3 linked regions of the Homo sapiens genome follow. The protein of the gene in region 3 purifies or fractionates together with the protein of the main gene of each other region. This does not show direct contact. Each region holds a gene or a part of one and is shown on either strand. Other genes may lie near its edges.

What was found.
Region 1: the proteins of EHMT1 (region 3) and CHAF1B purify together in Homo sapiens (affinity purification with mass spectrometry, with the first as the bait; one large-scale study listed by BioGRID). This does not show direct contact.
Region 2: the proteins of EHMT1 (region 3) and HEATR5B fractionate together in Homo sapiens (co-fractionation; one large-scale study listed by BioGRID). This does not show direct contact.

Annotation. Positions count from the first base shown.
Region 1 is NC_000021.9:36,387,898-36,392,705, reverse strand, and holds part of CHAF1B (chromatin assembly factor 1 subunit B), read right to left. Parts: intron 1,156-4,808; coding exon 1,038-1,155; intron 1-1,037. UniProt on the Homo sapiens protein: Acts as a component of the histone chaperone complex chromatin assembly factor 1 (CAF-1), which assembles histone octamers onto DNA during replication and repair.
Region 2 is NC_000002.12:37,073,559-37,078,366, reverse strand, and holds part of HEATR5B (HEAT repeat-containing protein 5B), read left to right. Parts: intron 1-1,347; coding exon 1,348-1,456; intron 1,457-2,732; coding exon 2,733-2,882; intron 2,883-4,808.
Region 3 is NC_000009.12:137,814,505-137,818,004, reverse strand, and holds part of EHMT1 (histone-lysine N-methyltransferase EHMT1), read right to left. Parts: coding exon 3,497-3,500; intron 2,059-3,496; coding exon 1,943-2,058; intron 567-1,942; coding exon 480-566; intron 1-479. UniProt on the Homo sapiens protein: Histone methyltransferase that specifically mono- and dimethylates 'Lys-9' of histone H3 (H3K9me1 and H3K9me2, respectively) in euchromatin.

The sequences.
Region 1 (4,808 bases), on a different chromosome or scaffold from region 3:
TGCCCGGCCGCCCCGTCTGAGAAGTGAGGAGCCCCTCCGCCCGGCAGCCGCCCCGTCTGGGAAGAGAGGAGCCCCTCCGCCCAGCAGCCGCCCCGTCTGGGAAGAGAGGAGCATCTCTGCCCGGCAGCTGCCCCGTCCAGGAGGTGGGGGGCAGCCCCCGCCCGGCCAGCTGCCCCGTCCGGGAGGTGGGGGGCGCCTCTGCCCGGCCGCCCTGTCTGGGAAGTGAGGAGCCCCTCTACCCGGCCGCCACCCCGTCTGGGAGGTGTACCCAACAGCTCACTGAGAACGGGCCATGATGACGATGGCGGTTTTGTCGAATAGAAAAAGGGGAAATGTGGGGAAAAGATAGAGAAATCAGATTGTTGCTGTGTCTGTGTAGAAAGAGGTAGACATAGGAGACTCCATTTTGTTCTGTACTAAGAAAAATTCTTCTGCCTTGGGATGCTGCTAATCTATAACCTTACCCCCAACCCCCTGCTCTCTGAAACATGTGCTGTGTCAACTCAGGGTTAAATGGATTAAGGACGGTACAAGATGTGCTTTGTTAAACAGATGCTTGAAGGCAGCATGCTCCTTCAGAGTCATCACCACTCCCTAATCTCAAGTACCCAGGGACACAAACACTGCGGAAGGCCACTGGGTCCTCTGCCTAGGAAAACCAGAGACCCTTGTTCACTTGTTTATCTGCTGACCTTCCCTCCACTATTGTCCTATGACCCTGCCAAATCCCCCTCTCCGAGAAACACCCAAGAATGATCAATAAATACTAAAAAAAAAAAAAAAAAAAAAAAAAAAAAATTTAAAAATCAGCAGGGCATGGTAGCATGCACCTGTAGTCCCAGCTATTTGGGAGGTGAGAGGATCACTTGAGCCCGGGAAGTCAAGGCTGCAGGGTACTGTGATCACAGTACAGCACTCCAGCCTGGGCGACAATGAGACCCTATCTCAAAAGAAAAGAAAAAAAAAGTCAAAAGGTATATTCCATTTAATGCACTCATCGTAAACAGAGATCACTGCCATGGTCCCTCCCAAGTTACCGCAGAGTCTTCACAACCGTCCAGTTCTCCTTGTTCAGCTGGGCCTCGTCCTCATCCTGAAAAGCGATCTGCTCCGGCTCCTTGTTATCATTCACCTTCCACAATAGGATGACAGCATCTGCAGGGTGATTCAGTAACAGTGATCCACGCTTCACCCACACTCCTTCATATTAGGATTTTTATTTTCATTTTTTTTTTTTTTTTTGAGACGGAGTCTCACCCTGTCGCCCAGGCTGGAGTGCAGTGGCGCAATCTTGGCTCACTGCAACCTCTGCCTCCCAGGACCATCCTGGCTAACTGTCTCTACTAAAAATACAAAAAAATTAGCTGCATGTCAGGATTTTTAGGGTATTAAAACAACATTTATGTTGTTCAGTGGACACTATGGCCAGGATGATTTACTTCCAAGCATTTCAACAGGGAAAGTAGGCAAATTGCCTTCTGAGCTAAAACTCCAAAATCAAATTCATAACAGATCAGAGCTATACAAAATCACCTTAAACAGAAGGGTCCCTAGGCCAGCAAATGCCACTGCAAAATGACTGGCTACATTAATAAATCTGAAGGCATAACCTATAAATAGCTGAATAGAAAAACAAAACAGCAAAGAACCCTCAGTGCAAGGGTTGGCAAATGTTCCTAGCTCAGAAACCTTCAGCAAGTCACTTAGCATCTTGATGTCTCAGTTTCCTCACCTGTAAATGGGGATAATAGGCAGGGTGGGGTGGCTCACGCCTGTAATGCCAGCACTTTGGGAGGCTGAGATGGAAGGGTTGTTTTAGCCCAGGAGCTCAAGACCAGCCTGGGCAAGAGAGCAAGACCTTGTCTCTACTAAAAATCAAAAAAATTAGCCAGGTGTGGTGGCACACACCTCTGGTCCCACTACGCAGGAGGCTGAGGTGGGAGGATCACTTGAGCCCGGGAGGTGGAGGCTGCAGTGAGTCCTGATCTTGCCACTGCACTCTAGCCTCAGTGACAGAGCAAGACCCTGTCTCAAAAATGAGGATAACAATATATCTACCTCACAGGCTGTTGTGAGGATTAAATTGGCCAATGTATATAACACACTTACAACACAATGGCTGGCAGATAGTAAGCCCCATGTAAGTGTCAGCTATTAATACCATTATAGATATCAGGTACTTTAGCCTGAGGTCACCCATTGTCTAAGTCCAATAACTCCCCACATTCTGACTCTACGATTACCACGTAACCTTCTGACCATCCCTTAGCTTCCCTTTTAGGAATGTGCACAGCAGGACAGTGAATGAATGAGGTTGTGAGGACATACGCATTCCCATTCTTTGTTTTTCTTTCTTTTTTTTTTTTTTTTTTGAGATGGTGTTTCACTCTTATTGCCCAGGCTGGAGTGCAATGGTGCAATCTTGGCTCACCACAACCTTCGCCTCCCGGGTTCAGGCGATTCTCCTGCCTCAGCCTCCCGAATAGCTGGGACTACAGGTATGCACCACCACACCCAGCTAATTTTGTATTTTTAGTAGAGACGAGGTTTCTCCATGTTGGTCAGGCTGGTCTCGAACCCCTGACCTCAGGTGATCTGCCCACCTCAGCCTCCCAAAGTGCTGGGATTACAGGCGTGAGCCACCGCACCCAGCCTGCATTCCCATGCTAAGTTAACCGGAATCCTATTCGCACACATTAGTCTGGGAGCTTGGTTAACATGCCATTGGCCCTGATGGATGAACACTCTCCACGTGCTGACAACAGCAGGTTTCTGGGCCTCCAAGACCAAGGGACTTTGGAAAATGGGGGCTGCCATGTGCAACCTCAGGGCAGACAGCAGGTAGCCACCCCCAGGTGGCGCTCCTGCTCCCCACTTTTCCCTCTACAAATCAGCGTGCGCGCGCACACACACACACACACACACACACACACACACACACACACATCCCTTCATGCACTCTGGGTATCATGGCACTGAACTCAACCAGGTCTCTTTTCCTCCTCCTGCAAAAAAAAACTTTAGATTTCTGTTTTATTTTGTAATAGTTTCTAGATTGTTTTAAAGTATGGTAAAAAGGTTTACTTTTTTTTTTTTTTTTTGAGACAGACTCTCACTCTGTTGCCCAGGCTGGAGTGCAATGGCCCAATCTTGGCTCAGTGCAACTTCCACCTCCCAGGTTACAGCGATTCTCCACCTCAGCCTCCTGAGTAGCTAGGATTATAGGAGCGCACCACCATGCCCAGCTAATTTTTGTATTTTTAGTAGAGATGAGGTCTCACTATATTGGCCAGGCTGATCTCAAACTCCTGACCCCAAATGATCCACCTGCCTCGGTCTCCCAAAGTGCTGGGATTACAACATGTGTGAGCGACCGCGCCCAGCCTGGTTTACTTTTTCCATATAGTTTTATCCCATTTAAGCACAGGCAGAAAACAAGAATCAATCTATTCCCACCAAACAAGCAAGCACAAATCACAAGGCCATTCATTAATGACACTCCCGGTATGCTCCCTCCCCAGCACCCTCCAGCAGCCCGGCACTGCAGACACCAGGACTCCAAAGCAGCATCAGTCACAGCAGGGAATGGGAGAAAACACACAGATGTCAAACCAGAGGAGCTGCCAAGCTGGGTACCGACGCGGGATCTTACCCCGACCGGCACTGCTGGAGCGTTTCAGAGGCTACTATGGGTATTACAACAAGTATGTCACTGTGAAGAAAGGGAGCATTGCGGGGGTTTCCACAGTGTTGGCAGCTTAGGTGCTTTTCAGCTACTGCCTTTCTTACAGGGAGATCAAACACGAGCAGCTACTCAGGGCCCACTGAAGAGGGGCCAGTGGGAGGGCACACTGCACTTCTGAGCATGGCACACCTCCATGAGGAACTTTGCCATTGCTGAATTCTTTCATATCCCAGTTTAGAATTCATGCCCAAATAGCCCGGGCGCGGTGGCTCACGCCTGTAATCCTAGCACTTTGGGAGGCCGAGGCAGGCAGATTGCCTGAGCTCAGGAGTTTGAGACCAGCCTGGCTGACAAGGCGAAACCCCATCTCTACTAAAAATACAAAAATTAGCCGGGGGTGGTGGCAGGCGCCTGTAATCCCAGCTACTTGTGAGGCTGAGGCAGGAGAATCGCTTGAACCTGGGAGGCAGAGGTTGCAGTGAGCCAAGATTGTGCCACTGCACTCCAGCCTAGATAACAGTGAGACTGTCTCAAAAAAAAAAAAAAAAAAAACTCCCAAAGCCAATTAATTACTAACACAGTCCTAAAGCCATTTAATTAATTACACAGAGACACAGAACTGACTCTGATCACCACAGATGTTAAACTAACAATCCAACAAAACCAGAACAGTCGCCTTGCTTGGGATGTGACAGAATGGTAAGTGCCTTTCCATCTCGTCTTAGAACAGCCTGGTGGGAGCTTGCGGGAAAGCAGCTGTTTTCAAACAGGTGTTCCTGGTTTCATCTTGCTGTCCTCCCTCCCTGACTCTACCACATTCCCTAGAACAGTATTTTACTGAACTACCTAAATGACAGATTGAGAGGGTCAGCCACACCTGAACTAAAAAGCATATCCAGGCCGGGCGCAGTGGCTCACGCCTGTAATCCCAACACTTTGGGAGGCCGAGGCAGGTGGATCACCTGAGGTCAGGAGTTCGAGATCAGCCTGACCAACATGATGAAACCCTGTCTCTACTAAAAACACACAAAAAAACTAGCCGGGCGTGGTGGCAGGCGCCTGTAATCCCAGCTACTCAGGAGGCTGAGGCAGGAGAATCGCTTGAACCCAGGAGGCGGAGGTT
Region 2 (4,808 bases), on a different chromosome or scaffold from region 3:
TGCCGGCATGTGATGCCAGTCATTTTAAATTTATTATCAGCCTACAGGGTATCAAAAAGCATGAGATTTGGAGTTGAAGAGGTGAAAGTTGATTCCCTGATTCTACTGTTTATTATGTGTTTGATTGTGAGCTAAATTTAGTTAACCTCTCTTATCTGTAAATTGCTCAGATCACATAGCTTTTATTTATTTTTATTTGTTGGAGCGGGAATGACTCGCCTCATGGTAGACCACCTGCCCACTTCCAAGATCCAACTACACATAGCTATTAGATGGTAGGTTCTAGGATTTAGGCACAGGTCTGCTAGACTCCAAAGCATCCGCTCTTAACCACCATGTCCTACTTTTGCCTTTAAGCTAAACCCACAGCTATTCACTTACTATTGACCTAAGTGACACTGGGGTCATTTCTTGCTCCTGAAGAAGTGTGTTGCTATTATTACTTTATTCTTCCAAGTGTTCTGTTAATGTAATTTAGATTAAATTTTACAGGTTTACTAATAGTATAGTATTATTTGTAAATTAAGAGGTAGACACTGTGAGCAATGCAAATATGTGAGCTATATTCCGTTTCTGGAGTTTACATTTCCACTGGCAGGACAAGATAGAGACATATAAAATGGTCAAGTTACAACACAGTAAATGATATAATTTTGTCAAAATCAGTGATTGACATTAAGTGTTACATATAATGAAAGAAGAGAGGGATTGTTGAGGCTTGACATAATTTGGAAAGTCTTCATAGAAGCAAAGCTTAGGGGCCGGGCGCTGTGGCTCACGCCTGTAATCCCAACACTTTGGGAGGCCGAGGCAGGCGGATCACCTGAGGTCAGGAGTTCGAGATCAGCCTGGCTAACGTGGTGAAACCCCATCTCTACTGAATATACAAAATGAGCTGGGAATGGTGGCATGCACCTGTAATCCCAGCTACTCAGGAAGCTGAGGCAGGAGAATGGCTTGAACCCAGGAGGCAGAGGTTGCAGTGAACCAGGACCACACCACTGCACTCCAGCGTGGGTGACAGAGTGAGACTTTGTCTCCCCCTAAAAAAAAAAAGAAAAGCTTGGATTTCTTCCCAAAGAATGGGTATGATTTATTATGTACATATATAGATTCTTTTGTATTCCTAACAAGAATACAATTTAACTATAGTATTTAACAAGAATACAGTGTAAATAGAGTATAGTATTTGTTGCAGTTATGAAGCATAAATTGTTTTTGATAGTTGAAATTAAGGATTATAGCCAAAAGTGTCCTAGACAAATGCAAATTGATTTCTAAAAATGAGAAAAGTATAATTGTATCATTAACCTGGACAATGACTAGTGAAGTTGTCACTTCTTACAGGGCTGCGGTGGCTTGTGTCGGAGCATTTTATGAAAAAATGGGGAGAATGTTGGGCAGCGCATTTCCAGAAACGGTAAATAATCTATTGAAATCTCTGAAAAGTGCAGAGGTAAGTTTTACAACCAATATTATTTGAATATTTGCTTGTGGCAAGAGTTAGATGTCAGCTAAAATATGTTTGTTTCTTTTTCTGTCACTGTGGTCTCATATTGCTTAGCAAGGAGGTAATTACAAATTATTACTTGTCCCTTCTTTTAATGTATATCAGGGGGAAGGGAAAGAATGCTTTTCTTTGACAAGGAATAGGTTTACTTGTTATTTTTTATTTAGTCCTATGGTACTTTTGGATTGGCTTTTTTTTTTTTCTTTTTTTTGGTGCCATAGCTAATGTGTTAATTTCCTGGTTACTGTAATAAATTACCTTAGACTGGGTGGCTTAAAACAACAACAATTTATTGTCTCACAGTTCTGGAAGCTGGAGGTCTGCGATAAAGTGTCAGCAAGGCCATGTTTCCACTGAAGGATCTAGGGAAGAATGTTTCCTTTCCTTCTTACCTTCTAGTGGTTGCTGGAAATCTTTGATCTTCCCTGGCTTGTAGATGCATCTCTCCCATCTCTGTCTCCTTTGTCACATCACCTTTTTCCTGTCCCTTTGTGTTTTGTGTCTAAATTATTTCCCTGTTCAGTGATACCAGTCATTGGATTAGAATTGGATACCTTTTCTGGGAACTATTTGTCTATTCATTCATTAAAAAAGAATTGAGGACTTATTATTTGTCAGGCATTAAACATACAAAGATGGTCCTGACCTCAAAGAACTTACAGTTTAGTGGAAGAGAGCTAAGTGTGAATAAGCATTGTGATACACTGTGATGAGTATACTATCAGAAATAACAATAAGCACTATGAGAATATGGATATAACAGTTTGAGTTAGTCACAAGAAGATGAAGGTTTGCTGTATTTCTGACATGTTTTTTTAAATGTGTTGGATGTTTTCTGCTTCCTTTTTTGGATCATTTATATATTATTTCTCAACTTTTTTACTTAATATTTTACGTTCTGAAATATTTTATATATTGAGATATGATATTGAAGCTTTTGAATCTCTTCATGTTTTCATTATATTGTATGTACTTCAGTAATTCATAGAAATATTGGAATATATTTACTTAAAACCTAATTTTTTAGAAAGATATTATTTAATTGACTATTCTTACTTGCCAGGTACTTTCTAGAATACTTAATTTTATTGTACTTTTCATTATTTACCGTTTATAATTTGGAGGTAAGACCATTAGACCCAAAGAACTTTTGTCTTGGTGTGTTCTTGTTTAAATATGGAATTTATTTTACAAAATAGTTTTGTTTTGTATACATGTCTAGTCTCAAGGGCGAAGTGAAATCTTAATGAGTCTACAGAAAGTTCTAAGTGGACTGGGTGGTGCAGCAGCTTCCTCCCATCGTGATATTTACAAGAATGCCAGGTCTCTCTTGACTGATAGGTCAATGGCTGTTCGATGTGCAGTGGCCAAGGTTAGTACTCGACCAATTTAGAATACTGCTCTTTATCCTTCTTGCTCTTAAACAGTCAACGATTTTTTTTTCTTTTAAAATTTTAAATTATGTTTTGTGTTCCAATGGATTAGTTTCATTTTCTAGAATTATATATAATAGTATCACATCATGAGATGTACTTTTGTGTATGTGTATTCTGGCTTCTTTCACTTAGTATAATTGTTTTGAAATTCATTTATGTTGTTATATGTATCCATAGTTCATTCCTTTTTATTGCTGAGTAGTATTTCATTGTATGGATATGTCACATTGATTTGTTCACTCACCTGTTATAAACATTTGAGTTGCTTCTAGTTTTGATTATTACAAAAAAACTGCTGTGAACATCTGTATATAAGTTTTTGCACAAACATATGCTTTCATTTCACTTCCGCAAATAACCTAGGGATGGAATAGCTGGTTCATAGGGCAGATTTAGTTTAACGTTCAGAAAAGTACAAAACTGTTTTCCAAAGTACTCGTGCCATTCTGCATTTCTACTAGCAGTGTATGAGAATTTCTCTTCCTTCATATCATCACCATTGTTTGTTACTGACAGTCTTTTTAATTTAAGCCATTCTAATGGATACATATGTCATTGTATCTCATATCTCAATGGTATCTCATTGTGGCTTTAATTTGCATTTCCGTGATGACTAATGATAAGCATATTTTCAGGTGCTTATTTGCCATCCATATCTTCTTCGAAGAAGGATGTGCTCAATCTTTTGTCCATTGTTTTATTGGGTTGTTTTATAATTATTGACTTTTGAGAGTGTTTTATAGGTTTTTTACATATTCCTTTATCAGATATGTGATTTACAAATATTTTTCCCAATGGGTGGCCTGTCTCTTTATTCTCTAAACAGTGCCTTGTAAGGAAAAGAGATTTTGAATTTCATCCAGTGTATCAATTTTTCTTATATGGATTGTGCTTTTGGTGTTGTATCTAAGGAAACATTTCGTAAACCAGGGTTTGTCCTGTGTTTCCTTCTAGAAGTTTTATAGTTTTATACTTAGATATGTGATCCATTTTGAGTTAATTTTTGTATATGTTGCAAGGTTTGAATCAAAATTTTTTGTTTTTTTTTTCAATATGGATATCCACTTCTTCCAGTACCATTTCTTTTTTTTTTTTTTTTGAGATGGAGTCTTGCTCTGTCCCCAGGCTGGAGTGCAGTGGTGCGATCTCTACTCACTGCAAACTCCGCCTCCCGGGTTCACACCATTCTCCTGCCTCAGCCTCCCAAGTAGCTGGGACTACAGGCGTCCGCCACCATGCCCAGCTAATTTTTTTTGTATTTTTAGTAGAGATGGGGTTTCACCGTGTTAGCCAGGATGGTCTCGATCTCCTGACCTCGTGATCCGCCCACCTCGGCCTCCCAAACTACTGGGATTACAGGCGTGAGCCACCACACCCGGCCCCTCCAGTACCATTTCGAAAAGCCTATCTTTTCTTCACTAAACTCCGTTTACACCCTTTGTTGAAAATCAGTTGTGTGTATATGTGTAGGTATAATTTTGGACTCTCTGTGCTGTTTCATTGATCCATTTGTCTATCTTGATGCCAACAACACTTTTCTTCATTACAGTTCCTTTGTAATAAGTGTTGAAATCAGGTGCTGTTAGCCCTCCAACTTTGTTCTTTTTCAAAATTGTTTTGCCCAGTCTAGGTTTGTCAATGTCTGCAAAAATACCATGTTGGGATTTTGATTCAGGTTGCATTGAATTTGGAGAGAATTGCCATCCTAATAATATTAAGTCTTCCACCCTATGGACATGATATATCTCTCCATTTATTTTGGTCTTTCATATCTCTTAGCAACATCTTGTAGTGTTAAATGTACAAATATTGACAGAATACAAATAAGACTGGGGAAATATGACTAAAATCATGAATTCTAT
Region 3 (3,500 bases):
ACAAGCACAGCCCAGACTCCGCAGCCACAGGGAAAGAGCAGGGCACACCAGAAGAACATGCAGGGAACATGTTTAGAGAGGTGTGCCCAGGGTTGAACTGGGGTTTCAGCTGAGGGTCCGGAGGATGATGATAACGATACCGAAAGCTCTGCGTCTGCGGTCTGGTACCTGAGAACCCAGAATGGTCCTCCCCTAGAGATGACTGCCCATGCTGGACCACGCCTTCCTAACTGGACCACGCCTTCCTAACTGGACCACGCCTTCTTAAATGCACTCCTGGGCTGGTTACGGGCAGCAGCAAGAGGACTGAGGACAGCACGAGCTTGGTTCTCGGGGCCAGGGTCTCTGTGGCCCCCACCCCACGCTGCTGTACGCCAGGGATGTGCCTGCTCCCAGAGGGGCTTCCTGAAGTACAGACACAGATGGGCCTCCGTCCCAGAAATGACACCAGGCTTGGGGTGACCCAGGGACTCACTCACTCGCAGACAAAGGTGCCTGGTGGGATGTCCTGCAGGGACCGCACGCCCCAGCCCATGTCCCGCGTCCGGTAGAGCTGCAGCCTTGCCCTGAAAAATAGAGAGTAGTGGTGAACCCAGGCCACAGCCTCAGCCTGTTGCCACAATGGTCAGCAAAAGCCAGCTGGTGCCACGTCACTGAAATGAGGAAGAAAACTGGTTCTGTATCCGAAGCGTTCGATGCTGCAGGCACCTCACAGACACGGCATCTCGCACTCTCAGGGAGCCAAGAACCCGGGGATCAGCCAGGAGCACCCCAGCCCACAACCTCGGCAAGTCACTGGTCCTGGCCGTGGCTCGGTGTCCCCATCTGTAACATGGGGACAGAGCTGGGCCTGGGCCACTAGGCACTGTGAGGGGCAGAGGTGCTAATACTAGAGAAGCCTATAGCTGGACCAGGCTGTGGTGACACCTGCAGCCCAGCCTGCTCCCGACAAGGAGCCCACAGGCCCCTCAGGGCTGGGGGAGGGTGGCAGGGGAGGTGGCGGTCGAGGGTTTCTCAGGGCTGGGGGAAGGTGGTTGGGCAGGCCTGGGGGAGGGTGGCCGGGTAGATCTGGAGGAGGGCGGCTGGGCGGTCCTGGCATGTGGGCCTCTGAGGAGCCCTCAGAACCACGTGCCTCGCGTCTGCCCATCTGGCATGTGTCCCGTGTCTGCCTCGCGTCTGTCTGGCGTGGGTCCTCACCACCAGGCCTTTCTACCATACCAAGGACAGAGACTGCCTTTCACCATGAACCAAGTTTATCGAGGTCACAAAAAAGTCAATACTATAAAAATGAGTGTTCAGCTAAATTTAAGTGTGCATAACTTTCCCTTATGACTCAGAGGAGCTTTGACTTCTCCAATCTCGGGCACATTTGCGGAGGAAATGCTCAAGACCAGAATCCAGGGAAAGGAGACGCAGCTGCTGGGCGGTCAGGGGACCAAGCCCAGCTGGGGAAGGGCGCTGGGCAAGCCTTACTCCATGAGCGTCCTGAGCAACCCAGGAACAAGGAGTCCACGCAGCCTGAGAAGCGTTGGGACATCACCTCACTGTTAGGGAAGCCCAGAGAACAGAGAATATTTAGAAAATGACTGGAGTATTAAAATAGAACTACGACAGCCCTAACCTGTTGAAGAATGTTCGCATGAACTCGGTAACAAAGGTAATTCTTAGGCCAAGTCCGTTCCTCTGCTTTTAGCTGGACTGACCCAACAACCTGCTCCTTCTCTCATGCCGAAGTCTGTGCTGGGGGAAGCATGACTCGTGATTTATGGCACAAGTGACATTTCTAGAGGATAAAGGGCTCAGGTAACTTGTCGGCTCTATCTGCAAACACACATGTGCGTGCATCCAAACACGTTAAGTTCTTGTCTGTCGGGGTGACCTCCGTGCTAATACGTGCTAATACGAGCAGAATGTGGGGCTCCGGCAGGAAGCTGCCTCTCACCTGAGACCATTCTGTACGACGCGATTTCGGCAGTTCCTCCAGCAGGAGCACGCGTGGTTGCATTCGAAGATCAAGGGAGGCTCCGCCATGTTGAACTCTGGCAGGAGCCGGCCATCCTGTGGACAGATGAGCAGCAAGGGCCCAGCAGAGGTTACTCACTCTTTAATTGAACTGACATCAACCCATTTCTACTAAGTGCCCAGTGTGGCTTAAACGGACATAAAAACGATGGTTTCTGGCCAAACTTGAACACCCACCTAGGGAAAAACTCCATGTGTACGGTTTGGATGAGAAGCCTCCACCCAGATGCCCACACAGGTTGTGGAGACCCCCTGGAGCGCTCCCCTAGGCCCAGCCTGGGGCCAGCTTCTGTCCACCCAGGGCCTTCCCAGCCCCCAGCCTGGGCTTCTCCAGCCTCACCGAGGCTGCCAGCTCCTGGGTTGCTCTGCTTTCTTCAGCTGGTTGGGGCCTCCTGCACCCTCCTGCACTCCTGGCCTCCTTGCCTTGCAAATCCTCAACTGTGGAGGGACCCAGCCCTCTGCTCCCCTTTCTACCCCCCTGAAGCCAGGCCAGGTACAGCAGCACTGGGTGCAGATGCTCCCCCAGGGCTGTGTGAGCTGAGGCGCGGGGCCCAGGGCTGCCCAGGCACACTCTGGCTTGACGGCTTCAGGGGCTGCTCTGAACAATTAGGGCGCTCCTCAGAACATTCCTTCCTGCGCCCCCTCAGCAACACTGTCCACCTGAAAAGACACCACTCGGACATGAGCTTGGTGGCTTTCTGAGCGTACCATCTCCATAGCCCTCACTGGCACGAATCCTTTTCCCATTGGAGCCTCTAATTCAGATGGGTAAACACTTGACCCTCCATGTCCACTCTCCTCCAAAGTCTGCTTCCAGAGGGGACGCCTGTTGCCTCTCCCTGCTCGCGTCTCTTTACCCAGGCCATGCTGGCTTCCGCCCCCACCGTGACCTCTGAACTCGGGAGACCAGGAACTCTCCGCCTCTGCTTAGACATCCCTCCCCTGAATTGCACCCCTGCTAGCCAGGGCTACTCCCCACTCCCGTCTCCTCCTCAGCAGCCTCCAACCTGGGCTCCTCCGAGGACCAGCACCCAACAGAAACTTCCAATCCTGTGTCTCCTCAAGCCCAGCGCCCACACTGATGCTCCCTGTACCCAGCCCGGCAGCACCCTCCCTCTTCACACCCCTCACACTCAGCAAGCACAAGGCACAGCTTACCAGATACACACAACATAAGCAGCACCTCCTCCTGGGGCCAAGCCAGGCTGACGCTGCCCACCCCCGCCACCATCCAGGCAGCCACAAAGGATGCAGACCCCAGCCCCAGGGAATCCGCAGCCATGTCCTCGGCTCACGACCCTGACTCGGGTGCTGGTGCCCGCTGTGCCTCCCCTGCCTGTCACACCCAGCTCACCTCCAACTCCTTCCCGACGCTGCCACGACAGCGCTGGGGTCACAGACGCCTGCACTGTTTTTGCAGACCCGGACCAGCGGCACTTACCACCTGAGCCCACGCACACGAGGCCGCCCTCACCTTG